Linked DNA regions of Homo sapiens: regions 1, 2, 3 and 4 are each linked to region 5. Evidence: fine-mapped expression QTL. A gene starts in region 5. Each other region holds a variant in brackets. All regions are shown on one strand. Distances are from middle to middle.

Region 1 (5,000 bases), 260 kb after region 5:
CTCCTCCTGCTCTTTGATTTTTCCATGCCATCCGTGGCCCTTAGAAGTGCACCAGCCTCTGGTAACAACATGTGTGTAACTCTTATAGGGTACTATGTGCCAGACACTGTTGCAAGCACTTCATGTATATTCACTCACTTAATCCTTCTAATAACCCTGTAAGATAGGTTCTATTTATTACCATTTCCATTTAACAGATGAGGAAACTGAGGCACAGAAAGAAAAACTAAGTATCCCAAGGTCACACAACTAAAAAATGGTAAAGCCAAATGTTCTGAGCTTAACTGTGTGATGGACAGGTGGATGAATAGATCGATGAAGACGAGATTGTCCACAGTGAATGGAGCAGATAGAGAGCCCCAAGAAAGCTCAGCATGGAGAAGCTATCTACAGGCTAGAGAGAGGGCAGGGGTTGCTTTTGTTACTCTTCTGTTCTATTAAAATAAAAAAAAGTAAGAATTATAATGTTAAACCTCTTTGTGCTTACTTTAAAATATTAAAACATTAATACCTATACAAAATCAGTTTTCTACCACATATGGACACTTCTTAGGGTAGAAACTATAAAACAGGTGGAATAAACTGTAGGCACAATCCCCTGCTCCCCAAAACGTCTCTTCCCCAAATATCACTAGTTGTATGGTCCTTAAACCATGCAGTTTAAAACACTTAAACTCTCTGCAGTTCAACGTCTCTTCTCTGGACGCATCCCATAGGCCAAATCCATTAATAATTATAATCACAGTCATGACAGCTGCTGTCAACCGAATACCTCATGAGTATCTGTACTAAGCTATGCCCTTTTGTACAAGAACTTTTGTTTGTTTGTTTTGAGACAGGGTCTTGCTCTGTCACCCAAGCTGGAGTACAGTGGCATGATCATGGCTCACTGCAGCCTCAACCTCCCAGGCTCAAGTGATCTTCCTGCCTCGGGCCCTAGAGTAGCTGGCACCACAGGCACGTGCTACCACGCCCAGCTAATTAAAAAAAAATTTTTTTTTGGAAATGAGGTCTCACTATATTGCCCAGGCTGGTCTCAAACTCCTGGACTCAAGCGATCCTCCTGCCTCAGCCTCCCGAAGTGTTGGGCTTATAGGCATAAGCTACCACGCCCAGCCTCTGCTCCTCTTATAAAGACACCAGCACTAGGATTATGACCCCACCATTATGACCTCATTTAACTTTAATCACCTCATTTACATTAATTAAAGCCTCTAAAATACAGTCACGTTGTGGGTGAGGGCTTCAACATATAGATTTGAGGCAGACACAGTTCAGTCCTTAACAATGAGCTTTGAAGGGTCTGGGTACCCTTAAAATCCTGTATCGGATTTTGCAGATTAGAGTCTGCATACATGATGTGGCCTCTCAAAAGATTAAAAATTACTAAAAGTATTATAAATGACAAAGAGGAAAAGGGTGCATAGAAAAATAGAAATATTAATAGAACTTGTGTTAAGGGGTGGAAGAAAACGAAAATTCTACAATATTGTCTTAATGAGCATTAAAAAGTAGAGAACAAGAAGGGCAGTGGAAAAGGAGCATGTATCAGCTCCCTCTTTACATTTTGAGGGTTTGATGGTTTTCCTGAGGTTGCAGGGTGGAGAGTGGATCTGAGGCTAGGACCCCAGGGTCCTGAGCCCCAGCCCACCAGGCGTTCTGTCCATGTTCTCACCAGCTGTGCAGTCTATCCTTCCCCAGAGAAGCCAGGGCCATCTGAGTGAGGCTCCTGAGCTGCCACTTTGCTGACCTCAGAGACGCTTTTTCCCTTGATTTCCTTCCAGAAGTGGAGCAGATCGAGGCTATTGCCAAGTTTGACTACATGGGGCGGTCCCCGCGTGAGCTATCCTTCAAGAAGGGGGCCTCGCTGCTCCTGTACCACCGCGCCTCGGAGGACTGGTGGGAGGGCCGGCACAACGGCGTGGATGGACTCATCCCCCATCAGTACATAGTTGTACAGGACATGTGAGTGGAGTCGAGAATTCTGTGAAGAATGCCGAAATAGATTAGTGATGTCTGGGATGGGCACCGTAGGGGAGTGCTAGCTTGTATGCCAGCAATTTGCTCTCCTTGATATCATACGCTTGTTCTTCTCTAACAATGGGTAATATCTAACTTCCCTTTAAATGGTGATCCACTTAACGGATATCCAAATTCCTCCTTCTGAGCACACAGAAACGGTGTTGGGTGCCTCTGGCCTACATCCTGATGCAGCTGACAGCCCCCAGGGAGTGCCATCACCCACCAGGGCTCTCAGTATCCAGGGGATCCTGCCATGTGCCTCCACCTCCTAGGCCTCCCCTGCCTACGGTTCTACACTCCAGAGGTAGCTCTCTTAGGGGATGGGCAGAAACATGCCCTTGTTTCTGATTAATAGGGTACTATTTTTTAAAAAATAATTTCAGGGGTTAATGAAAAAGAGCCCTGCATCCCAAATGCCTAGTCCTACCACAAAAAGTCTGCACTTTCCATTCCTTTGAAAGCCATGGAAGCTTCCAGTGCACACCTTCCTTGGGAGCTCTGGTCAGGCTCGGCAGAACAGATTTACCATAGAGGCAGCCACCAAGCTGAGCCTCAAGGGAAGGGGATCAACAGCCCACATTGTGATGGGAGAGAGGGGGTCTCAGCCAGAGAAAAGGCCAGGGCCAAGCAGACTGCCAGAGGAATGCCATAGTGGAGGGCCCTTGGCAGCCTCCCGAAGTCCCCAGACCTCTGAGATCAGGGACAAGTCACCACAGCAGAGGGCCGTGGAAGGAGGCCGGCAGGGCACCCCAACAAGCTTGGGAGCCACCTCACAGTAGCCCAAGCCCTGGGTGGGGAGGTGAGGGGCAGAGGCAGCTTCTTCCTCCCTTGCTTAGCCAGAAGCCATTTCTCATGAAGTCACACAGAGACTCAGCACTCAGCCCTCGGTGCTCAGCCTG[C/T]GGACTCCATCCCCCCATTTCTCCAACACACCCTGCAGCATTTAGCTTGTCCTAGCCTGGAGCTGCCTGGGAATGAACAAGCTAGAAGAGAAAAAAGGAGGAGGTAGGTGTGGGACAGAAGAGGGTCCCAGCTGCGGAAACTGACCAGGAGTGTTGCAATGGGCATGCGTGGTGGGAAGGCACCCAGTGGGCAGTGGCCTAGCAAGCGCTGTGGGCACAAAGTAACCATAAGTTGTGTTAATTCAGCCCCTCAGACACATATCAGGGAGCTCTGTATATGCTGGGTTCTTTGGGGGAAGGTGCCTCCAATTCATGTCTGTCTTCTCCCCAGGGATGATGCCTTCTCCGACAGCCTGAGCCAGAAGGCTGACAGCGAGGCCAGCAGTGGGCCATTGCTGGATGACAAGGCCTCTTCCAAAAACGACCTCCAGTCCCCCACGGAGCACATCTCGGATTACGGCTTTGGGGGGGTGATGGGCCGGTAGGATATGCGGATTCATTTTTTCCCTGCTGGTGTCAATCCTGTTCATGTCTGATTTGGGAGAAGCACAAGGGCAGAGAGGAGAGAAGGAGCCTACTGCAGCCCCTTGTTCCCCACAAAATGAAATGGGCACACTGGGCGGGCTGGCTGGCATTGGCCCAAGAAGGCCAGGTATAGAACCATCCAGCCTGTGTTGCAGGGAGGAGGAGGAGGAAAGACATGTGTTGGGAACCCAGTGCTTTTTTATTTAAAATAATAATAATGTGTGAGAGAGATACAAATTGGCAAGTATTTTTCCTACCTGTGTCCAGTTCCTGCACCTCCTTCCAGCTTTCTGTTGTAGAACTGAGTTGTTATATTTAAAAATGTAAAGCTCACATATTCCCTGAAACGCGCTACATAAACAGAAAACTCACACCTACTCATGTGTTGAAGGAAATTGACACTCGACTCCACCCACTTATTTGGAGGGAGCAGTATTACCAATTTCTTCGCTCCCTATGTGTGGGCCAGGCTGTGTCACATAACCTTTCTACCAGGCAAGGAGCTGTGCATGTCCTTCTGAGAACAGGTATAATCCAAAGTATGTGGTTATTTTTTAAAAAATTAATGAGGAAATAAGAAGAAAAGAAAAGAAAAGCTGACAGTTTCTCACTGCCTTTTTAGTCACACTCTCAAAATGTCATATTCTATGTTTTTTCCAGTGGAGGGGTCATGTGGTCAGCCCACACATGTAGGTATTTGCAGATAGACCCCAAAAAAATCAGTCACAGTGGGAACACACAATTTATGAATTTATTTCAGCAAAAATCCTGATGCCTCTTTTCTGCAAATTCCATTCAGTTCAGCAGATAGCTCGGGGCACTGTGGTGGAATTGAGAAGGTCAGGGAAGTGGAAGGCTGGCGTAGGTAGACAAAGAAGTTATGGTCCCCTGACTTCTAGGAGGACCATATCTTCTGCCTCTCTTTTCCTCTCCCTTGTCCCCCGCCCTCACCTCCTTTGTTCTTGTTCTTTCTTTCTAAGTACTGCTTCCTTTCCAATACCTATGCTTTGGTCCTGCTGGGGCACCCACAAGCACTGCTTAGCTTGGCTGGTGGCACTAGGATCTGAATCACTGGTGGTCCCTAGTCATAATCCATTCCCAACACACGGTCCCTCTCCCTCTCCCCTCACCACTTCTAGCCCTTCAGACTCTTGGTGACCTCTGTAGGATGCAGCCAAATCTCCTGTGTATAGAACCTCTTATCTTCAAGGTGCTTTCAAACCCACTTGAAGCAAAGGTAAAGGGTGGGCAAAGGATCTTGCTTAAACCCGCTTCACAGATTAATAAAGTGGGCTTGAGAGAGGACACAGGAAAGCACGCGGCAGACACAGGGCAAGAACTCACCTTCCTGAAACACAACCTAATCCCCTTTTCACCACACCAGAGCCTCCCTGAAGTGGGAAAGGTACCAAATGCACAAAAGGGCTGTCCAGCCATGCAGTGTTTACTCTTGAATGACTAGTTTTCCAAGATCCAAAAAAGCCTCGCAGAAGGAGCCCTCTTCTGGGGAGATTGGGGGTTGGGTGGCAACGTTAGAGTGTCTTCAGTTCCCAG
Region 2 (5,000 bases), 24 kb after region 5:
AAGCTCTTGGGTCCCCACGACACCCTTCTCTTACACCTGCTGCTGCTTGTCATTGGCCTAACCTGCCTGGTTTCTACATGTGTTTGAGTTTGCCACCTTTGGATTAGGCCAAGAAGTTATGCTTTATTTTCTGTCTCAAACTATGATCATCAGATTGGGTTGTACAATGAGAATTGCATGACAGCATAACAAACCATTCTATGTCTGTGATGGAAAACTGCCTCCGACTTACCATCATCCTTTCAAACTTCACCATGGAGACTCCCTGTCATTACTTCCAGTAAAACCTTTGTCATCTCCTTAAGGATGAGTTTGAAGTTTTACTCAAGGGCAGGATACTCTCCCCCAACAAGAAGTGCTGCTGTATTTGTCTCTGACTGCCCCCCAACCCCTGAGGGGAATGAGGGAGGGGCATTCAGGTGCTAGAGGCCACTGAAGACCCAGTGATGCATTAGATGGTGTCCTTAGTCATTCCTATCGTAGCCACCGTAATGCATTTTTAGTAGTTAAAAACATCGCAATGTAATTTGATAATTTTAACACCAAAGCACAATTCACAAGAAGTAATTCTGCCCAAACAGTGTGGTCCAAGGACTCTGCATTGGACTGGGAAGCCAGACAGATCTAGGACTGAATCCCAACATTGTCACTTACTAATTGCTTGACCTTGGGCAAGGCATCTCCCCTCTCTATGCCTCAGTTTCTTCCTCTTTCAAATGGGCACCCATTGGACTCTTGCAAGGATTAAATGACATAACCCATGCTTACCCAATGTCTGGAATGTGGGCCACACTCAATAAGTGCGCTCTGTTATTACTCTTACCCAGATTTTGAGGGGTCGATTCAATCCAAGAGTGAAATTTACAACATTCATGGCAGAACGGATGGCTTGCAGGCAAAGTTAGACCCACTAGCATGTTTTGTTTGGCCTTTGCAGGATTTACAAAAATGAATTCATCATTTCCAACACTTAAAAATGAAGAGAGTTAAAAAAAATCAGGGGAGTTCATGTAAAAATCCAGACTTCTGGCAGCTCTTAGAAAATGGGAAGATCTAGGAACACTGGGCCCTCATTCTCAGAGGCAAAAATTGGCTGTTCCCTTCCAATGGGACAGGGGCTCGGACTTGTGCCAGTGCCCACCTGGCCCACTTTGCTCATTTCTGTTGCCTGCTTGGCTCCTGTGGGCAGGTGGGTTTTTTTGACCTGGAGGAATGGATCCACCTTGAGCCAATCCTCCATAAATATCATTTCCTGCAGACGGGGTTTGGAGAAGGTGAATAGCAGGTTGCATTTCCTGGCAGGTGCTCATGGTGCCATCTGTGTTATCGATGAAATGAAGAGCCATCAGCTTCAACAATTTGAGGGGCAGAGATGGGGTCATGGTCCTCTGAAAACAATCTGAGAAATTAACAGATTTGTAGCTGTGAATGGATGGCCATCTCATCACCCCATGTAGGTGGGCTGAAATTTAATGAGGAAAAAGTGTAAAGTCTTGCCCTTATGTCTGAAAACCAGTCTGTAGACTGGGGAGAGGTGTGCTTAGCAGCAGCACTTGTGAAAAAGACTTAAGGTTCTCGTTGACAGTGAGTTTTGCTGTGAGTCACTGTGAGGCAGTTGCCAAAAAACCTAATCTGATTCTGGGCTGCGTTTATAGAAGTCTAGTGTCTGGAAGACCTTTCTAACAATTAGAGCTGTCTTGAAGGAACAGGCAGGCAGTCTCCTAAGCCTTGATCTCCCAGGCGTAGGAGGTGCTCGAGGCTGGGTGATGAATCCCTGGAAGAGATTGTCAAGAGTGGGGATTTAGGCATCAGAGGGAGATTTGTTCTAGGTGACTTAGAAGGTCTCTGCCAATCTGAGATTTTCTGCTTTCTGCAGCCCAGTAGAGGAAAATAATTTCCATAACAAAAGTAAAACTCTTTCTGATAGAGGAAAGCAGGACTCCCTGAAGAGGCTCAAAATGGAAATGTAAACTTCCAGTTCTTACCAAGTAATGTGGGCAAAAGATATCACTGCCTCTACCCCACCCCTGACCCCCTGCCTTATTTCTCAGAGATAGGGGTCGGGGGTTGGGGTTGCGGGGCAGGATCTGCTCTGCACATTACTGGTAATTTTTTTTTAAAGCTGAACTTTTATGCAGAGCTTGCAGACTGACAGCACATGGGCCCGATCCAGCCTCAGGTGTGTTTTATTTGGCCTGTACTGTGTCTTTTAAAAATGTGAGTTAGATGCCAACTTGTAAAAATGAGGAGATTTTGTATAAAATATGGACTTCC[CA/A]GCAGCTTTTATAAAAGTCAGAAGGTCTGGCAGCGCTGGGCTTTTGTTCTGGGGATGAGCACCGATTGCCCTTCTGTGGCAGGACTTGAGCTCTCCCTTGGTCATGGTCCTAAACTCCCTACCTGGCCTGCGTCACCTGTTTACCCGGCCTGCCTGGCCCCAATAGGTGTTGGAGTTTGCCATCCCTGGTGTCATGGCTTGTTTTAAAGGCCCTGCGCTGTTGTGACCTTAAGGTGCCATTGTGGACTCTGCTTGGTCATCCCCTAGCAGAAGGGCGGGCAGCTGGGAGTTTGCCAGGGGATGGGGTTGGGGTAGAGGGAGTGGGAGCAGAAATGCTTTTATAGCTGCTTTTAAAAAGTACCTGTGGCTCACACACAGTCAGCCTCCAATTCTTTCATCTCAGTAAACACCCCCAGCTGTTCTATTGTATGGCTCCAAGGCCCCCAGTGGTTTTCCTTATAATGACCCAAGTCTTCAACCTGGTAACTTCCACACTGTGGGCCTGTTCTGGAGCTGTTCAGGACAGTGGCTTCCTCTTCCTCAGCAAAGCCTGCTAGACATTTGCAGACAGTAGTCTCCTCTCTCCTGGAAGCTGCTGACCATCCTTGCCCTGAGAAGGTGGTGTTGGGTGCAGAGAGACCAGATGGATTTCCTGGAAGTGGCTGAGACAGAGCTGCTTTCAGGTGGGTCCTGAGCTGGGCAGTTTCTGCTTGGAAGCCCTGAGTGTCACGTGAAGCACTGTTCTCTCCAAAGGCCCCTCACTCCAGGCTCAGAACCTCTCTGTCATCTGCTGGTGAGAGACAGAGAACTGAATCTTTTTATGAAGTTTGGGGATTTGGTGGTAGAAACTGCAGGCACTTTACCCAGAAGCAGGAATCTTCAAGGACTGTTAGCTCTAATCTGTTGGCTGCTACGAGTTGAGGGGAGTGAGGCCTGCCTGTAGACCTCTTGATTGCCCTGCTCTGCAATAGAATTTGCTAGACTTCCACGCTGTTTGACTCTGTCTCTCTGCTTTTTGGTTCTCAGGCTGAAATTGTCCATCCTAGACCTTCACAACCTATAGGACACCCTCCAACACCACTTCCCTGCACAGCCAGCCCCTCCCTGTGTGGTTCTGCAGGCTTCTCACTTAGGAGATGCCCTGCTGTTCTGAGTTATTTCTAGTGTAGACATAGGAGCTTGTCTGGCCATCCATGGTACAGCCATCTGGTGGCAGTTTCGTGTTTTCACTGTGGTTGCCTCAGTGTATTCTTTTATTGAGTCATCCTTTGAGTTTCCCTTTTACTTTTCCCTTATCTCTCTGTTTAAGGACTCGCCCTTTCTTGGGGCCTTTCTCCCACAGATATGAAGGTATTTGTGAATTGTGGCAATTTTGGGAAGGCGGTATTTCTTGGGAATGGCAGGGTGCTCCACGATTACTCGACATTTGGAAGATGCTGGAGTCTGCATGGGGGGAGAAGATGGGCAGGCACCCTCTGACCTGCCTGAACAGGGTTAAGTGTGCAGGGTGGAGGAGGGGTGCGTGGTGTTCCCACACGTCCATCTCCCTTCACACTTTCCTCCCTCTATTCCCTTTTCCACACCACTTGTAAATGGCATGACATTTCAACACGAATGTCATGGCTGCTACCTAGTTTGGGGTCCTGACCGGCTCAGCCTTCCCTGGGGGCTTCCAGAGGTCTGAGTCAGAAACAGCCAAGTCTCATGTCTAAATGAGTTGTTCTATTAACTTGGCTTGGGTAGCACTCGGTGACGAAACCTGACTGTTGCTGTAGGTATCATGTGGAAGGGCTGCGGGCATGGTGTATGCATGTGTTTGTTGCAGGCGTGTTTGGAGAGGAGGGTCAGGCCTTCTCTTCTGCAGGGGCGTCTGTTTTCCTTCAGAGCCCCGTGGCTTGTGAAATGGCATTGCACAAGGAAATGATCTATCTGGAGCCGATTTCACTCCTGTGTAGTGCTGGGAGCTAATTGAAACTTCGAGAGGAGAAGTGCCTGTCTTCCATCCAGAATCAAGATTAATTGATGTTCTTTAATGGAAACAAATCGAATCTCACAGCAACCCTTCCCATTAACCTTACAGTCATGCACTTTTCTATGAAGGCTGGGATGGTTCTTCAGAATCAGCAGGTTCTTGGAAACAGTTGATGCCTTGAAGCCATTTGTGTCTGTCCTCATAATGGCTGGTGGGAAACGGGGATAAAATGCCTTTGGAACACCTGATGAGTGGCTGGGATGAAGGGGTGATTCTTGTTTGCCTTGTGGCTTGCATGGCACACTCATGTTGCATTGCATTTGATCTCCCTAGCAACCCCGTGATGCAGGTGGAGTTGGACTGAGTATCTTTAATGTATCATGAGGAACTCCTCCTGACTTTGGAGCACCAGTCCCTCAAGATGTGTGCTGAGCAAAGGGCTCTGTGTTCAAATAAGTGTAGAAAACATTCTACTGCATCCCCTTCCTAAAGATTCATAGCTCACTTCTATGTATTAAAGACTCTGATAAGTCCTGTAGAAAAATCTATTTAATTCATTATTTCCTGAACTTATTAACCTAGGTACTCTTTTTCTTTACAGTGTAATTATTGGCATCTTCTAGACCTACTGACATGTCCTGTAAAAACCAGGTGATAAACATTTTAGGCTTTGTGGGCCATATGGTCTTTGTTGTAACCAATCAGCCCTCCCTTTGTAGTGCAAAAACATCCACAGACAATAGAGAAATAAGT
Region 3 (5,000 bases), 31 kb after region 5:
CAAGAGGAAGTCCAGGCTGGCAGATGCATGTCCTGGCCATGGGGCTGGGATACTCAGGAATAAGACTCAGGCACTGGGGACTAAGGCAGATGCTGTCACCAGCGGGGTGGGACAGAGGTGGGACCTGAGAGGATGGGAGGTGGGGTCTGCCCTGGGCTGTGAGGCAGCAGCAGGACTAGCAATGTGGATGGAGTTGCTTTGCCTTTCCTCAAGCCATCCTCTTCCCTGTCCTCTCATTAAAACTTTCCTGTGTGTGTCCCATTTGCTTGGGACCTCAAGGCCAATGATGAGCTAATCATCTAGGGAGCCAGTGATCAATGTGGCTTTAGGTGCTACCCAATTTTAGTGACATTTGCATTGGGACAGATGCCTTAAATGCCTTGATCCAAAAGAATGATAGTGCCTGAGATTTGGGGACAAAGACACTAAGCCCAATGTCAAGGATCCCATCTGTGTCCCTTTGTGGAGAGTACTCTTGTTTGGAGATATAATGATCAAACAAGATGCCTGCTGTCCAGCAGTATGGAAGCTGAGCCCTGTGCCTGAAACTTTTGGAGCAGCAGCTGTTGGGCCATTGCATGATAATCTGGGCAGCATTTTTAGGGAGGAAAGAGCAGGCAGCAGAGGCACATCTGAGGACCCAGGAGCTGCAGAGGAGGCTTCATCTTGATGTTTGCAGCCTCTCCTGGAGGTGAGTGGACTACATGCAGGACTTCGAATGATCTGGATATGAATTCTTTTTTAAAAAATTGCTTTAATTGATGCATAATAATTGCACATGTTTATGGGGTACATGTGGTATTCTGATACATGCATACAATATGGAGTGATCAAATCAGGATGTTGAGGATTCCTATGACGTCAAACTTTTATAATTTCTTTGTGTTGGGAACATTTGAAATCTTCTCTCCTAGCTACTATGAAATAGCCAATATCTTGTTTTGAACCATAGTCACCCTATTGTGCTTTTGAACACCAGAACTTACTCCTTCTATCTAAATATATGTTTGTACCCATTAACCAACCTCTCTTCCTCCCCGCCCCACCCTACCTTCCCAGCCTCTGGTAATGATCAGTCTACCTTCTACCTCCATGAGATCAACATTTTTAGCTCCCACATATGAATGAGAACATGTAATATTTATCTTTTTGTGCCTGGCTTATTTCACTTAACATAATGACCTCCAGTTCCATCCATGTTGCTGCAAATGACAGGATTTCATTCTTTCTTTCTTTATTTTTTTGTACTCTGTCGCCCAGGCTGGAGTTCAGTGGTGCGATCTTGGCTCACTGCAAGCTCCACCTCCCGGGTTCACACCATTCTCCTGCCTCAACCTCATGAGTAGCTGGGACTACAGGTGCCCACCACCATGCCTGGCTAATTTTTTTGTGTTTTTAGTAGAGACGGGGTTTCACCATGCTAGCCAGGATGCTCTTGATCTCCTGACCCCGTGATCCACCCGCCTTGGCCTCCCAAAGTGCTGGGATACAGGTGTGAGCCACTGCCCCTGGCCAGGATTTCATTCTTTTTAAATGGTTGGATGGTATTCCATTCTGTAGATAGGAATTCTTGATCTTCTGCTTCCTCATGGGGTAAAGTTACTCAAGCCCCCTCATCTGTAAATAGAGGTGATAACCTGTGTGCCTGTTCCTGCCACATGTTATGGCTTAGTACATACCTGATTACACTGAACCTCAAGAATCACAGCATACGTCCTAACTCTCACCTGATGCAGAGTCCTCGACAACCATGAGGCTTCTGATTGGAACTTCCTGCAGTAAGGGGCTGACCACCTCAGAAATGAGACTATTTGCATTGTTGGAAAGTCTTGCTAGGAAAGTCTTTCTTGAGTGGAACTGCAAGATGCCTCTCTCCTTTAGAACAATACAGACTAAAATCTAAGCTGGCTGCCTCATGGTAGCTGTTTCGTCATTTGAAGACAGCTTTTGGCCAGGCATGATGGTTCACACCTGTGATCCCAGCACTTTGGGAGGCCTAGGTGGGAGGACCACTTGAGGCCAGGAATTCAAGACCAGCCTGGGGAACATAGTGAGACCCTGTCTCTATTTAAATAAAATAAAATAAAAATAAAATAAGATAAGATAAAATAGGCTGGGCGCAGTGGCTCACGCCTGTAATCCCAACACTTTGGGAGGCCGAGGTGGGTGGATCACCTGAGGTCAGGAGTTTGAGACCAGCCTGGCCAACATGGTGAAACCCCATCTCTACTAAAAATACAAAAATTAGCCAGGTGTGGTGGTTCACACCTGTATTCCCAGCTACTAGAGAGGCTGAGGTGGGAGGATCACTTGAATCCGGGAGGTTGAGGTTGCAGTGAGCCAAGCAGAGATTACAACACTACACTCCAGCCTGGGCAACAGAGTGAGACTCCATCTCAAAAAGTAAATAAATAAATAAAAATAATAAATAATAAAAAGTAAAATTAAAAGATAAAAAATTCAATAAAATGAAATAAAATAAAGACAGCTTTTATGTACTCCTAAATCAGCGGTGGGAAATAGTTTCTACCTGATGTGCCAACTGTGCTGGATTGCAGTGACAGCTGGCGGTCTGTGTTGAGAAGTATTCTGAGGCTGTGTCAGGGTCAGCAGGAGAGTATCAGATCTGCCCTGGGCTTGGGGCTGGGCATGGTGTATATGGAC[G/A]GTGTGTTTATTTTCTCTGCTAAGCGTTTATGCTTAGATTCTGCCATCATGCTTTAGGTGACTTATTCCCTCATTCTCTGGTCTCTTTTTCTGGCCACACTTCAGCTTATCAACATTTAAAAAGCCATCTGGCTGCCATCTCTTCTCCCTAATTCATTTCTAGGGTGGATTTGACCAATCTGGCTGGCCCAGCTGTGGTCTCTCCTAGAGCATTGTTTCCTGCAATATCTTCCCAAATAGAGGAGGACCATTTTTGGATCTGCAGTCTGCTAATAAACCTTCCAAATTATTAACGGGTCTCTTAAAATCTGGAGCCCAAGCTAAGTAAGCACTGTCTTTCAGAAGTACTCTCAATGGTTCGGAGGCTAGCAGGACTAATAATACATCCCTTGATCCTGTTAATGCGGCTTAAAGGTTGTGTTAGCTTTTTCCCTGTGTTTGTAAAGCCGAAGCTGTAGTGTACCCCCTGCTGCGGATGGTGAGGGCAGGAGAGCCAGATGCAGTGGGGGCAAGATCTCCTCCTGTCCCCTCCCTGCCTCTGTGACTCTTGGTGGCTTGGGGGGCCTGGGGCCTGCAGGGGTGACATATGGCCCCACCGAGGTCCAAAGGCCACAGGTCTCATTCTGTCACAATGAAGTTGTCTGCCCTAAAGGTCCCTGGATCACTGTCAGTCTTGACACTGGAGCAACCTGAAAAAAATAAGGACAATGTAGACATTTTCTCATAAACCTAATGGCACACAATTCAAGACCTGCTCTTTATTACACAAATGATGGTCTTCATTTCCTGCGTGTGGTGTGGTGTGGTGTGTGTGTATGTGTGTGTCAGAAATTATCCTTTCTTAAACAATTGAGGTAGTTCTTCTCCCTGCCCCGAATACCCTTTGAAAAGTTGGCCACCCTCTGTAGATCCCCTTCCTTTTGCGGGGAGGAGGGAGTCTTACCAGGCTGTGAAAGCTGGTCTAAAAACCCCAGCCTTGTCCAAGGTGAGGCCCATCAGAATTTGACGTGCCCCCTTGGAGGGTCTTGAAGAAGCAATCTGGCATCTCAATGAGGCCCCTGTGGCACAGGATTGGGCCATTAATAGTTAAAGTAGTTAAATTTCTCACAGCCCAATGTATTGGAAAGGCAGCAATGTTTTCATTTAGACCTTAGGGCTGGGGTATAATTTAAGGAGAGTGGATTTTGATTTAGGAACTCAGTTAACGAGTGCCAGCCTTGTCAATTTTTTTTTATTGTGTCGAAAAGCACATCACATAAAATTTACTATCTTAACCGTTTTAAATGCACAGTTCAATGACGTTAAATACATTGATAATGTTGTGCAACCGTCACCACCATCCATCTCCAGAACACTTTTCATCTTGTAGGACTGGAACTGCACCCAGTGAACAGGAACTCCCTGTTCCTCCCCCATTCCCTGGCAATCACCAGTCTACTTTCTGTTTCCGTGGTTTTGGCTCCTCTAGGCATCTCGTGTGAGCGGACTCATACAATATTTGTCCTCTGTGTCTGCTGTAGTTTAGTTAGCGTAATGCTTCAGGGTTCATCCGTGTTGAGGCGTGTGTCAGAATTCCCTTCCTTTTTAAGGCGGAGTAATATCCCATTGTATGCGTAGAGGCCGCATCACGTTCATCCGCTCCTCTGGGGAGGGACACTTGGGTGGCTTCCGTGGTGTGGCTCATGTGCTGCGGTCTTGTCAGTTTTTAGCCATGGCTCGGGAAAGTGACTTGGCCCCTCAGTACCTCCGTTTCCTCATCCATTACATCGGAGCCTGTCCTCTACGTGGGACTGAAGTAAGAATCGTTGTTTGTGACAGTGCGTAACTGCAACAGTCCATCGAGTTGAAGTTATTTCTGAGAGCACTGGGCTAGCATTTCTTAGGGTATCTGCTCTGTGGCCATTCAGCTTTGCCAGCCTGAAGTGTAGGAGGAAGGTGGGAGACGGTTCAGAGAAACGATACGGAGAGGACCGGGCTGTGGCTGCTCCACAGGGTGTTTTGGGTGGGGCAGTTCTTCACTGTGGGGACTGTCCCTTATATTGCAGATGCTTAGTACCTTGACCCCTGCCCGTTAAATGCTGGTAGTACTCTCCAGTCATTGTGTTGACTTAAAACGTATGCCCATAATTTTGTATTCCCCTTGTGGGGGATGGTCCTGCCTCCAGGTGAGAGGCAGGGCCTGAGTGTTCTAGAAGGGTCTGTGGAAGTAAGAAGATGAAGCACAGAAGAGGGAAAGCATAAGAGAATGACCTGGTGGGCTGATACATCTGCAGTGTGCATACTAACAGTTGGTGCTCAGGCCCTCTGAGTGTGCATTAGTCAGGGGCCTCCAGATA
Region 4 (5,000 bases), 100 kb after region 5:
ACACTGAAAGTGTTCTGTGGCCTTTGCCTTCCTTTCTCCATCTGTGCATGGAAGAAGTTTCTATGATCTCTTCCGGGTTTAACTTGGCCTTGAAAATAAACATGGAAAAAGTGCCTGGGATGAAGATTGGGTCTTCTCGGTGCTGGCCTCTCCAGGCTCCCTTTTCCTCTCCCACCTTCTTACTTCTGGGCTCCAGCCAGATGGTCACTTGCCTCCTCCAGCCTTTGCCCAGGGTGTCTTCTGCTGGGGACATTCTCCCTGACCCTCCTCTCCTCACCCCATAGCTCTTTCCCTGGCCCACTCCTCTTCAGCCTTTAGATTTCAGCTGAGATGCCATTACTTTCGGGACCCCCTCTTGATCTCCCTGGCACCCCCTCATCTCATTAGGCTCACCTCCCTGTATCCACCCTGTGCCCTGCACTTGCCCTATCCCAGTGTTCATCTCACTGGATTACAGTTGCTTGTCAGTCCTCCTTCGTGGTCTGTTTACTCCATGAAGAAAGGGGCAGGTGTGTTCTTTGCCCACCACTGTTTCCCCAGCACCTGCACGGTATTGGACACGTCGGGGGCACTCAACAAACCCATGGTGAATGAATGGATGGAGCCATGGCTGGCTGGATGGGGTGCATGAATAGATGGGGGAAACAGGTGCTAGGTGGTTTGAGCCTGTTAGCTACTGCCGTAGAATTGTGCGTGACAACCATATCACCTTGGTGACATCAGTAACAGGTATTTATTGCTCACATGTCTGGAGTTATCTGGAGGTCAGCTAGGCAGTTCTGTTGAACTTGGCTGGGATTACTTGCATGTCTGAGGTTGGCTGTTTGGCTAAGGTGACTAGGGCAGTGCAGCGCCACTGCTTTTTCCCTCACCCTCCTGCAGGCCAGCCCAGACATGTGCTGCTGGTGATGGCAGGGGTGCAAGAGCAAACAGAGACACTCAAGGCATCTTGGAGCCCGACTGTAGCTGGAGTAGCACATTCTACTGGGCAAAGCAAGTCACAGGGCAGCTCTGTTTCAAGGAGTGGGGAACTAGATTTTGCCCCTTTAGTGAGAAAGGAATTGTAGACACATGGCAACGATTATGGATACAAGGAGAGACTGAAGAAGTGGGGCTATTAATGCAATTAACCTGCCTCATGGGACATCAAAAGTCCTGGGTCATAGCTTAGGATTAGGAAACTGAGGTGCAGTTAATGAACTTGGCCAGCTCTCAACTAACTGGGACCTAGGGGAAGACACATGTGCCAGATGGGCTCTCTAGCTTCAGGTTTCTTTTTTTCTTTTCTTTTTTTTTTTTTTTTTTGAGACGGAGTCTTGCACTGTCACCTGGGCTGGAGTGCAGTGGCGCGATCTCGGCTCACTGCAACCTCCGCCTCCCGGCTTCAAGCGATTCTCCTGCATCAGCCTCCTGAGTAGCTGGGATTACAGGCGCCTGCCACCACGCTCGGCTAATTTTTTGTATTTTAGTAGAGATGGGGTTTTACTATGTTGGCCAGGCTCGTCTCGAACTCCCGACCTTGTGATCTGCCTGCCTCAGCCTCCCAAAGTGCTGGTATTACAGGAGTGAGCCCCCATACCCAGTCTCCAGTTTCATTCCCTAGAAATAAGGGAATGATGTTGATGCTGCTCAACTCACATAATTCCAAGGAATCCATTCTTTCTTCAGCCCACTCTCAGGTTTGGGGAAGGATTACAAACTGTAAAGTGCTGTGTCATGGGAAGCAGAATTGCTCTTCCAGAAGCACTTGGCCCCCAGAACTGGGGAGGAGCATGGGGTAGTGGAGAAAGGATGGACTATGAGATGAGGAACCTGTCTGTAGGCCCCATGTCCCAGGCCCCACGTCCCAGGCTTCTGATATCTCAGGTTCTCCATTGTAAATTGGAGGCCCCGTGGGGTCAAATAAATAATGGATGCAAATGGATTTCAAAAAAATATCAAACACTCTGTGGTTGTAAGGTATTATTGGAAATGGGGGTACCCTGTTTCAAATAATTGCCAAAGTAGCTATTTGACAAGTCTGGCTTCACCCCATGGCACTTCCTCTGTCTCCCCAGATGAGATGGTTGGGAGTAAACTGTTCTGAAAAGATGCTTCCAGAGTCCAAGAAAATGACAAACAAGACTTCCTAGATGTTCTTTTCCTGCATGACACCATGAGGCACTGCCCCCAAAATTGCTGGTGCTTGTAGCACACATTCCTCTGCTTGTTTTCTGCCTAGCACAGAGAAATGCTGGGGTTGATGGTTTTTCTAGGGCGTTTTCTTCTTCCAGTCCCTGAAATAAAAGCCGGCGTTTCTGGAGGAGAGGCAGGCATCTCCGCCCTCATCCCTTTATCCTCCTCCTCCTCCTGCTCCTCCTTCTCCCTCCCTGAAGTTGATGCCCTTGGTGATTAGCGTTGTCCTCCCTGAGATGCTAATGGAGGTTCTCTTGGACACTTAAGCTAAACTGGATCCGTGGGTATTTCTCTCACTGGCTTTGGAGGAAGAAAACCAACAAAACAGCCCCTCCCTGGCTCTGGAGACAATCTCAGGCGTGGGAGGTGAGGCTTAATGCCTTTTATTCCCAAACTTTGCAGAGG[G/C]GCTTCTGAAAGATGGGAGGGAGAGGCCAGAGTGTGGTGACACCATCTGAGGGTCTGGGCCCCATCACAGCCCTGGTGGACCCTGGCCTGCCCATGTCATCTGCTTTAGTGGCTCTGGCACAGGCTGCATTCCTTTCTCCTGGAGGCTTCACCTCTCTCCAGAGGCCACCACTCTGGACGGCTGTGTGGAAACACCTGGGCCAGAATGCATCCAATTCCCGCAGAGCAAAAGGAAGCGCTTGGATGCTTCTTGCTGCGAGCACATTGTTATTTTTCTTTCCTCTCTCATGAATCATTCTGCCTGGAATCTTCCCTGGAAGGGCTCATCTGGCTAATGATTCTGTGCCCAGAATCAGGGATTTTGATGCACTGATGAGTGACAAGCTGAGGTGGCTGAGATTTAGGGGCAGGGAGCCTTCAGTCTGGGCTCACCTAGTCCGGGGCTCAGGTTGTGGCTACAGCACCTGACAGCCGAGTTCATTAACTCAACCACCGTTTCCCAGTCCTAGGCTGCTGTAGGTTTGTGGTCAGTGTTAAATGAGATCAGGTGTGTGAAACTGCCTCGCACAGATGGGTTTTGAATCTGACTGGAGTATGATCAACCCTTGAGCCTACTGACCCCTTACCCCACTTCTCTGGTGGCTGCCACAACCCCATATTCTTGTCCTCTACAGTAGAAGAAATCAAGGTGGGGGCCTGGCAGGCTCTGACTTCCAGAAAGCATTCCTCTTGTTTTGTGTTTACTTCTGCAAAAGTAAGAAGTAAAAATGGGGGTGTGTCCTTGGGCAAGTTATTTAATCTCCCTGAACTTCAGCCTCCTCATCTTGACAATGGGAATGGTATTGTCTGTGTTGTAGGGAAAGTTTTAGAAGTAACAGATGTAGAGTTGGGTATAGATTCAGTACTTGGTAAGTGCTAGCTGGATTAATTTCACATCCCACACGTCTCTGGTCTTACCAAACTGCAGGTGTGCGTGGAGGGGGTCCATTTCTGCCACTCATAGCCTACATTGCATCACAGCAGGCTGCCACCGCTGGGCGTCAGGTCTCCAGAGGCATCTCACGTGTACATGAACAATTCTGCTCATGCTGTGGTTGACCTCTGCTTCCTGCCAAGCACCCAAGAGGGACGCATCGTCCTCGCGCCCTGCAGGGTGTACCTTGTGGGGTTCCCGCTCCTCTTCTAGCACCTGGTCCTGGTGCTCTCTGTCTGCATACCTTCAGATGCCCCTGTGTTCCCATCAGTCTGTGTTGCTCTAGAACCATCCCTGTGCTAAGCCAAGGTGTGGAAGAAGCCCTTCCCTTAACTCTGCCAAGCTTTCTCATGAAATCTCATCATCTCCCATGAGACATCTGAATTGGGCCTTGAAGTATGAGTAGGAGTTCACCAGGTGAGGGGTAAATGTAAACTTATATTTCACTTAGAGGCCACTTCTTCTCCCAGACTGGCTTCCTTTTCATTAATTTTTGAAATCAGTTATAGAAATTGATGCTGGGGTTACCTGTCTGCACCTCTGGTTTCGCTTGGGGCTATAAAGTCCCTGCTATTATAGCAGCAGCTTCACATCACTGCCACTCTTATCACCAACTACAGGTGGAGCGGGACTCTAAACTGGGCAGTCTAAGGGAAATGCTGTGTGTGAACTCTACTACAAGAACCTTTGCATTTGAGATGGGCCCTGTGGCACTCCACGCATGGGGTTCTTGTACAAGTTAGCAAACCAGGATTTGTCAGTCAACACGTGGAATACCTGCTTGATGGAAGGAGCTCGATTGATAAGTCTTAGTTGAGTCTCCCTGTCCCTAATTGTAGTATGGCAGTAGCCTTCTAACTAGTCTCTTCTACCGATTCACTTGCCTCTATGCTGCCACCAGGTTTTCTGTAACATTGACTGTGGGGTAAGGCCTAAGCCCCTGAACATGGCCTTCAAGGCTATTCACCATATGGCTACAAGGAGCCCTTTCTGCCTGAGCTTCTTCCATGCCCTGCTAAACTTCTTAACTTTTAGCCTTGTTGAACCCCTCGCCAGTCCCTGAACAGGTCACATACTTCCAGACCTCAGGGCCTTTGCCCACTCACCATATCCCTCATGCCTTCTCTCTCCTCACCTGGTGAACTCCTATCCAACCTTTGAGGCCAGGCATGCATGCCCAGTGAAACCTCCCTGGCCCTTTTAGTTCCTACCATCTCCCCTACTTCCTGAGTTCCTTTCCTTCTTGATGTTCTTCTTTTGTGTGTACCCCTGTTTTAGCTCATTGTAATGTTGTGATTTTTTGTATTTGTTAGTGTCTGCCGAATTCCTCAAGGGAAGCTCCTGAGTCTCTCCCAGGGTTGTACATTCTTTTCCTAGCACAGAGCCTGGCAGATGCTAATAAATGTTGTATGAATCTGTAAATGAATGATTGAATATGGAAATAGGG
Region 5 (5,000 bases):
TATGCCAGGCACTTTAAATCCATGATCGTGTTGGATCCTGTGCCATGGGTGGATCACTACCCTATGACAGATGAGGAAACCAAGACTCAGAGAAGGTGTATTCCTCCATGAGCCCCACACACAGCTGGTGCACAGCAGAGCCAGAAGGTAAACCACCATCTGACTTACTCCAAAACCCAGCCTCTGCCAGGTGTCAGCTCAGAGCGCTATACCATCTTTGGCCTTGGTTTTGTATGGCTTTTTGTGACATTTTTGTGACATTTCCATGGCTCAGCACCCTACACATAGGTCTCCTAGAACTATTTGTGGATTTAAAATTTTAATAATGGTGAAAATAGCTGACATTTACTGAGTTCCTGCCACCAGTGGGCACACAAGCAGGTTGAGCCACTTGCTCAAGTTCTCATGAGCTCAAGGCTCGTGGCAGAGCCAGGAGAGGATCCAGTCTGTCGTACTCCAAGGTGTATGGTTTTAACTTTCATTTTTCTTGAAGAATCTAGACTTGCAGCAGGGATGTTAATCTCTGTGCCCATCTTTCTCAGGTAACGTGGGGCTTTTGTGGGTTTGAACTAGTTAGAAGAGGACAGCAAAGGGCCTGAACATGTCCAGGGGAGGCGTGAGGCAGTGGGGTGATGGCAAGGGCTGCGGGCCAGTGGCATCTATTTCTGAACTGGTGACCTCCTGCCTCCGGGTACAAGGCTATAATAAGCCCCATGATTCACCAGTTGGACTTCTCCCTGTCGTTGCTCCAAGCAGGTCTTGTGCTTTGCCACCTGTGGGCCCCAGCTCATGCTGTGTGCTCCAGGAGAACATCCTGCCCCGCCTCACTCCCTTTGCCATACTTGCCTGGGGACGCCCACTGCAGCTGCCATGTCCTCTAGGAAGCCTTGATGGACTAGCATGGATAACCTATTCATTTCTGAGTCCAAACAGAATCATTTATTATAGACTCAGAAAAAGGCAAATGGAAGACTATACCTATTTTGAGAAATTTGGGAACATTTATCTCAGGGGACAGTCAGGGGCCAATACACATTAGTGACAATCTTAGCATATGAAATTCCAGTGATCAGCGACTCTTTAGTGCTTGACTCAGTTTTTACAGAATGAATCTTATTCTACCTTAATTCCACATGAAATGGGTTTGGTCTCCCTTGTAGAATGCAGGAGACTTTGAGCCTGGGTTGGAAGGCTGGTGACCTTGGGTAAGTCACTTCCCATATCTGAGCCTCTGCTCCTTTGTCTGTGAAAGAGTGGTGCTTATACCTATGTTGTTAGGTTGTTGGGGGATATAAAAGGGTAATAACAGTTGCTACTGTTTATTGAGTGCTTGCTATGCACCAGAGACTGTGCTAAGCTTAGCTTTGCATTTTTCTTTGATCTTTTCAAGAGCTCCTCTCATTCCCGATGTTCCTTACCCTGCAATATTTTTTCCCATAGCACTTTACATTTTGTATGATATTATATAATATACTTACTGTGCTTATTTTTGGTCTTCCTCTCCCAGGGCCTCTTGCCTCGTACAACTCCAGGGGGCACCATTCACAATGCTTTCTACTCCAGGGGTGCTTTTTACTAAGAATATTAGCATGAATGGTGGAAACTGCTGGAGTTGTGTGATGTGGAGCCCCGGGAGCTTCAGAAGGTCAGGGATTTTTGTGTGTGCCAGTTCTGATCATTGCTGTATCCCTGTACCCAGAACGGTGCTAGACCTATAGTAAGCATTCAGTAAATATCTGTTGAAAGAATGAATAACATAGCCTCCAAAGAGAGCTGATTTTACTATCTAGGAAACTGAGGCTCAGTCTGACTTATGAATTTGCCCAGAGCCCCACAAGCCAATGACCCACCCAGCTGTTCTGCCTCCAGTGTGCCTGCTCTGCGTGGCTTTGCTAAGCTGCATGCCTTTAACTCCTCGCATCGTCTCTGCCACCAAGTAACTGCTCAACAAATATTGATGCTTTTCCCTACATGGGTCAGGCCCTCTGCTAGACTATCCCAGTAGAGTGACAAACCATCATATAGCTGTTGATTCCAGAAACTGAATTAAATTGCACAGTGCAAAAAAAGGGAGGATCTTAAGTTTTTGGAAGAAAAATCCCTAACCCAAGTGCTAATGTTTGGAGTTTGCAGAAGCCTCTCAAGACTTACCAACCCGATTACTTTTCCTGCTGCCTTCCCTTTTGTGAGCGTTTCTTCCCCTTTTTGCTTGCAGTGAGTTCTGCTCTCCTGTAGGCTACAATGTGTCAGTTGTTATAAAATCCGGGAGGCGGAGTCTAGTGACGTGAGCAGTGGGGGAGAGCTCAGCCAGCCCTGCAGGGCGAGCAGTCCAGCCTTGTGTTCACCGGAGCTTAAGCGTTGCAGCAGGAAAACTTCCATCTCGCTCTCCTGGCTTTGATCCTCACTGGACATCAGACCAGAGGCACCGAAGGGAGGGAGGATGCGAGATGACCGGCCCTTTGGCAACCTGACCATCGACTTAGCAGAGCCTTCAAAAGCAAGCCAGGGGCTGGCTGCACGACCAAAGAGGCGCCGCGCCTCTCGTGGATGTGTGTGTGTGAGTGATCCAGCGAGTGTGTGTGCGTGTGAGGGTGTGTGTGTGTATGCCTGTGTGCACAGCACAACTGTGTGCGTGTCCCGGTGAGTGTGCCTGTGCATGCGTGAGTGTGTGTACGTGTGCATGTGTGTGTGAGTGCGCTTGGTTATTACTATTATTATTATTTTTGGAAGAAAAATCTTTGAAAATCTGGGGCAGGTTACTGTGCTCCTAGGGTGATTCTTCTTTTGCAAGAGGAGCTGACCAGGGCAAGCTACTAGAGCCATTTCTCGGCAAGTAAAGAGATTTTTCCTTCCAGAAGGAGAAGGATTTTTCTCCCTGCTCTGCAGCCAAGTGAAAGAGATTAGTCCCTAAACCTGTGAAATCGACCAGAGCTGTGTGATTACCAGGGCTTGAGAGAGGACTCGAAAAGAAAAGGAGAAATAAATCAAACAGCCTGTCAGTTCCTTTGGCCACGTCAGAAGATGTCATCTCAAACTAAGTTCAAGAAAGACAAAGAGATCATTGCTGAATATGAAGCCCAAATAAAAGGTGAGATGCGGGCTGGGAGAGTTTTCCTTCTCCTCCCCTTTCGTTTTTCTCTTGTTCTGGTTCCCATCCCCCGCTGCCCCCCGTTTTCCTCTCTGCCATTATGAAATGTTATGCATCAATAATCTTTTTGTGAGGAGTAACAGTGGCAGCCGCACAAGTCCGGACTGGTTTCAACTGCAGATAGCGCTGGGGCTGGGAGTGTGGATTATGGAATGGGCAGCAGTCTCTGCATTGCAGGTGTGTGAGGAGGATCCTATGCCTGACTTTAGGAGTGTCGCTGATACCCCATCATCTTGGCGGTGACATGTCACTCTAAGGCCATTTTGATAGTCACTACCTCCACCCCTTCCCTGCCATGGTAAAAGCCCTTTAATATTGGGGTATTTTTTTACCATCTGCTCTTTTTTTCCTCCCCCTTTTTGGTTTCTGTTGGTGGTGGTGGTTTTGCCTCCGCCTCTTTCTCTGGGCCGGAATTCACATGCATGTGCACAGCGAGGCAGCATCCCTGGGCGGCACTTCTTTGTCGGTGTCTCTGGGCTGGCCTGGGTTGCCATGGATTAACTGTTATGGGGCATATTGATCCAGACTAATGCAGGCATTTGGGCATAAAAAGGGAGCTTGGTGCAGAAAATGTATTATCTCGCAGTGTGCAGCCCAATCACTCTGTGCCCTGGCGTTTAGGTTCATCAGCTTTCATTCAAAGCCAACACCTCGGCATGCCGTTTGGGCTGGTCAGCGCTGCCTGGCTTCCGGGGTTCCAGGAGAAGCCTGCCGGGAGGGCGAGATGACCTCTGGCTGCTGGTTGCACCTTCTGTGCCACCGGGTGTATACTTCTTTCAGAAGCCGCTCCCTAAATCCACGCTAGCCAGGCGAAATAGGAAAGGGAACACAATTGCATGGCTAAATGCGGGCTTGCCGCATCCTCATTCAGGCCAGACTGGGGCTTCTCCCACCCCTACACGTTCTAGGCTCAGCTTTGGCAAGGAAAATCTAAAAGCTCCATCCAGCAGGCTCCTCCTTTCTCTGAGGATGTGCCCTGTGGGAAGCCTGGGCTCGTGCCTCTTGGCGTCCGCTTTCTTTCTGGTCATGGTTCTCCTTGCTGCGACACAGGGTGTGTTGTGGCCTCTCCTAGAAAGAGTAAAGACAAAATGCATCTTCAGCGGACCTTGAGGCCTATCTTTGAGGTTATGCACAGGCTGTTGAGCAAGTTGGGTATTTGGGGCTCAAGCAACCTGAGGTTGCCACACCTGCTTCTGGGCGCTGCTGCAACTGAAGACCCAATGACCCAGGGAGCTGGGTGGCCTCCTTAAAAGCAGCGGGAAGGCTGGGCACCGCAGCTGCCATACACGCTTCAGATGCTTGGGAAACTTTGGGAGTGGAGCAGCCACGGGGGGAGGGATCTGTTTTTTTTCCAGTCTCACCAACAGTCTTTTTGCCTTTTAGTCCTGGTCAAAAGCCCAGCGTGCTCATCACCTCTGGGCATATCCTAGGGCAAGAGGAGCAGAAAACCCTGCTCTTCCCTGGTCTCCTGTCTTTGGTTTTTCAGTTCAATGTGGAAAACAGTGACTTACGATGTCTCAGCCTTGCTGAAAATTTAGAAATAAGCGCTTTATTGGTCAGAGATTTTAATTCACCCAACTGCTCAATACAAAAGCCTAGTTTCAATCTTTGAATAGACTCTTTTTAGGGAGTTTATGTTTTATAAAATGAATTTGGCCAATTATTATTATTTTATAAAAATTAAGGTTGCCATGAAAATGCCTTGAGAGAGAAGGGGATGTTGAGTTTTGGACAGTTCAGGTTTTATGATATTTTCTTGGTAGGAAATGTGCTTATCTCATTTTGGAAGGATTGCTACTACTGGGCCAGTGAACTTTTCTTCAGGGCCAGTTAGGCATTAATTGCCCTGGCT

The links.
Region 1: its variant is fine-mapped to the expression of SRGAP3 in lung (GTEx, PIP above 0.99). The same link has a PIP of 0.9 or more in thyroid, tibial nerve, transverse colon, unexposed skin and whole blood.
Region 2: its variant is fine-mapped to the expression of SRGAP3 in whole blood (TOPMed, PIP above 0.99).
Region 3: its variant is fine-mapped to the expression of SRGAP3 in whole blood (TOPMed, PIP 0.97).
Region 4: its variant is fine-mapped to the expression of SRGAP3 in esophagus mucosa (GTEx, PIP above 0.99).

What each region holds. Positions count from the first base shown.
Region 1 is chr3:8,991,308-8,996,307 of GRCh38, reverse strand. SRGAP3 (SLIT-ROBO Rho GTPase activating protein 3) reads left to right here. Exons shown (of 22, transcript NM_014850.4): 19 at 1,785-1,965; 20 at 3,253-3,402. Among named protein-coding and RNA genes, the nearest start is that of RAD18, 30 kb to the right of the region's middle. The variant C/T (reference allele first, on the strand shown) is at 2,922.
Region 2 is chr3:9,223,189-9,228,188 of GRCh38, reverse strand. All of the region lies in intron 1 of SRGAP3 (SLIT-ROBO Rho GTPase activating protein 3), which reads left to right. Among named protein-coding and RNA genes, the nearest start is that of SRGAP3-AS3, 8.8 kb to the right of the region's middle. RefSeq lists an enhancer at 3,534-3,793. The variant CA/A (reference allele first, on the strand shown) is at 2,275.
Region 3 is chr3:9,216,084-9,221,083 of GRCh38, reverse strand. The region is part of intron 1 of SRGAP3 (SLIT-ROBO Rho GTPase activating protein 3); the gene reads left to right. SRGAP3-AS3 (SRGAP3 antisense RNA 3) reads right to left here and starts at 4,189. Exons shown (of 5, transcript NR_103443.1): 1 at 4,095-4,189; 2 at 3,608-3,722; 3 at 2,531-3,353; 4 at 1,728-1,875; 5 at 1,576-1,617. The variant G/A (reference allele first, on the strand shown) is at 2,665.
Region 4 is chr3:9,145,519-9,150,518 of GRCh38, reverse strand. All of the region lies in intron 1 of SRGAP3 (SLIT-ROBO Rho GTPase activating protein 3), which reads left to right. Among named protein-coding and RNA genes, the nearest start is that of SRGAP3-AS2, 44 kb to the left of the region's middle. The variant G/C (reference allele first, on the strand shown) is at 2,581.
Region 5 is chr3:9,246,973-9,251,972 of GRCh38, reverse strand. It overlaps SRGAP3 (SLIT-ROBO Rho GTPase activating protein 3), which reads left to right and starts at 2,327. Exons shown (of 22, transcript NM_014850.4): 1 at 2,327-3,088. The coding sequence starts at 3,022. It overlaps SRGAP3-AS4 (SRGAP3 antisense RNA 4), which reads right to left and starts at 2,217. Exons shown (of 3, transcript NR_146969.1): 1 at 2,152-2,217. RefSeq lists an enhancer at 2,309-2,548.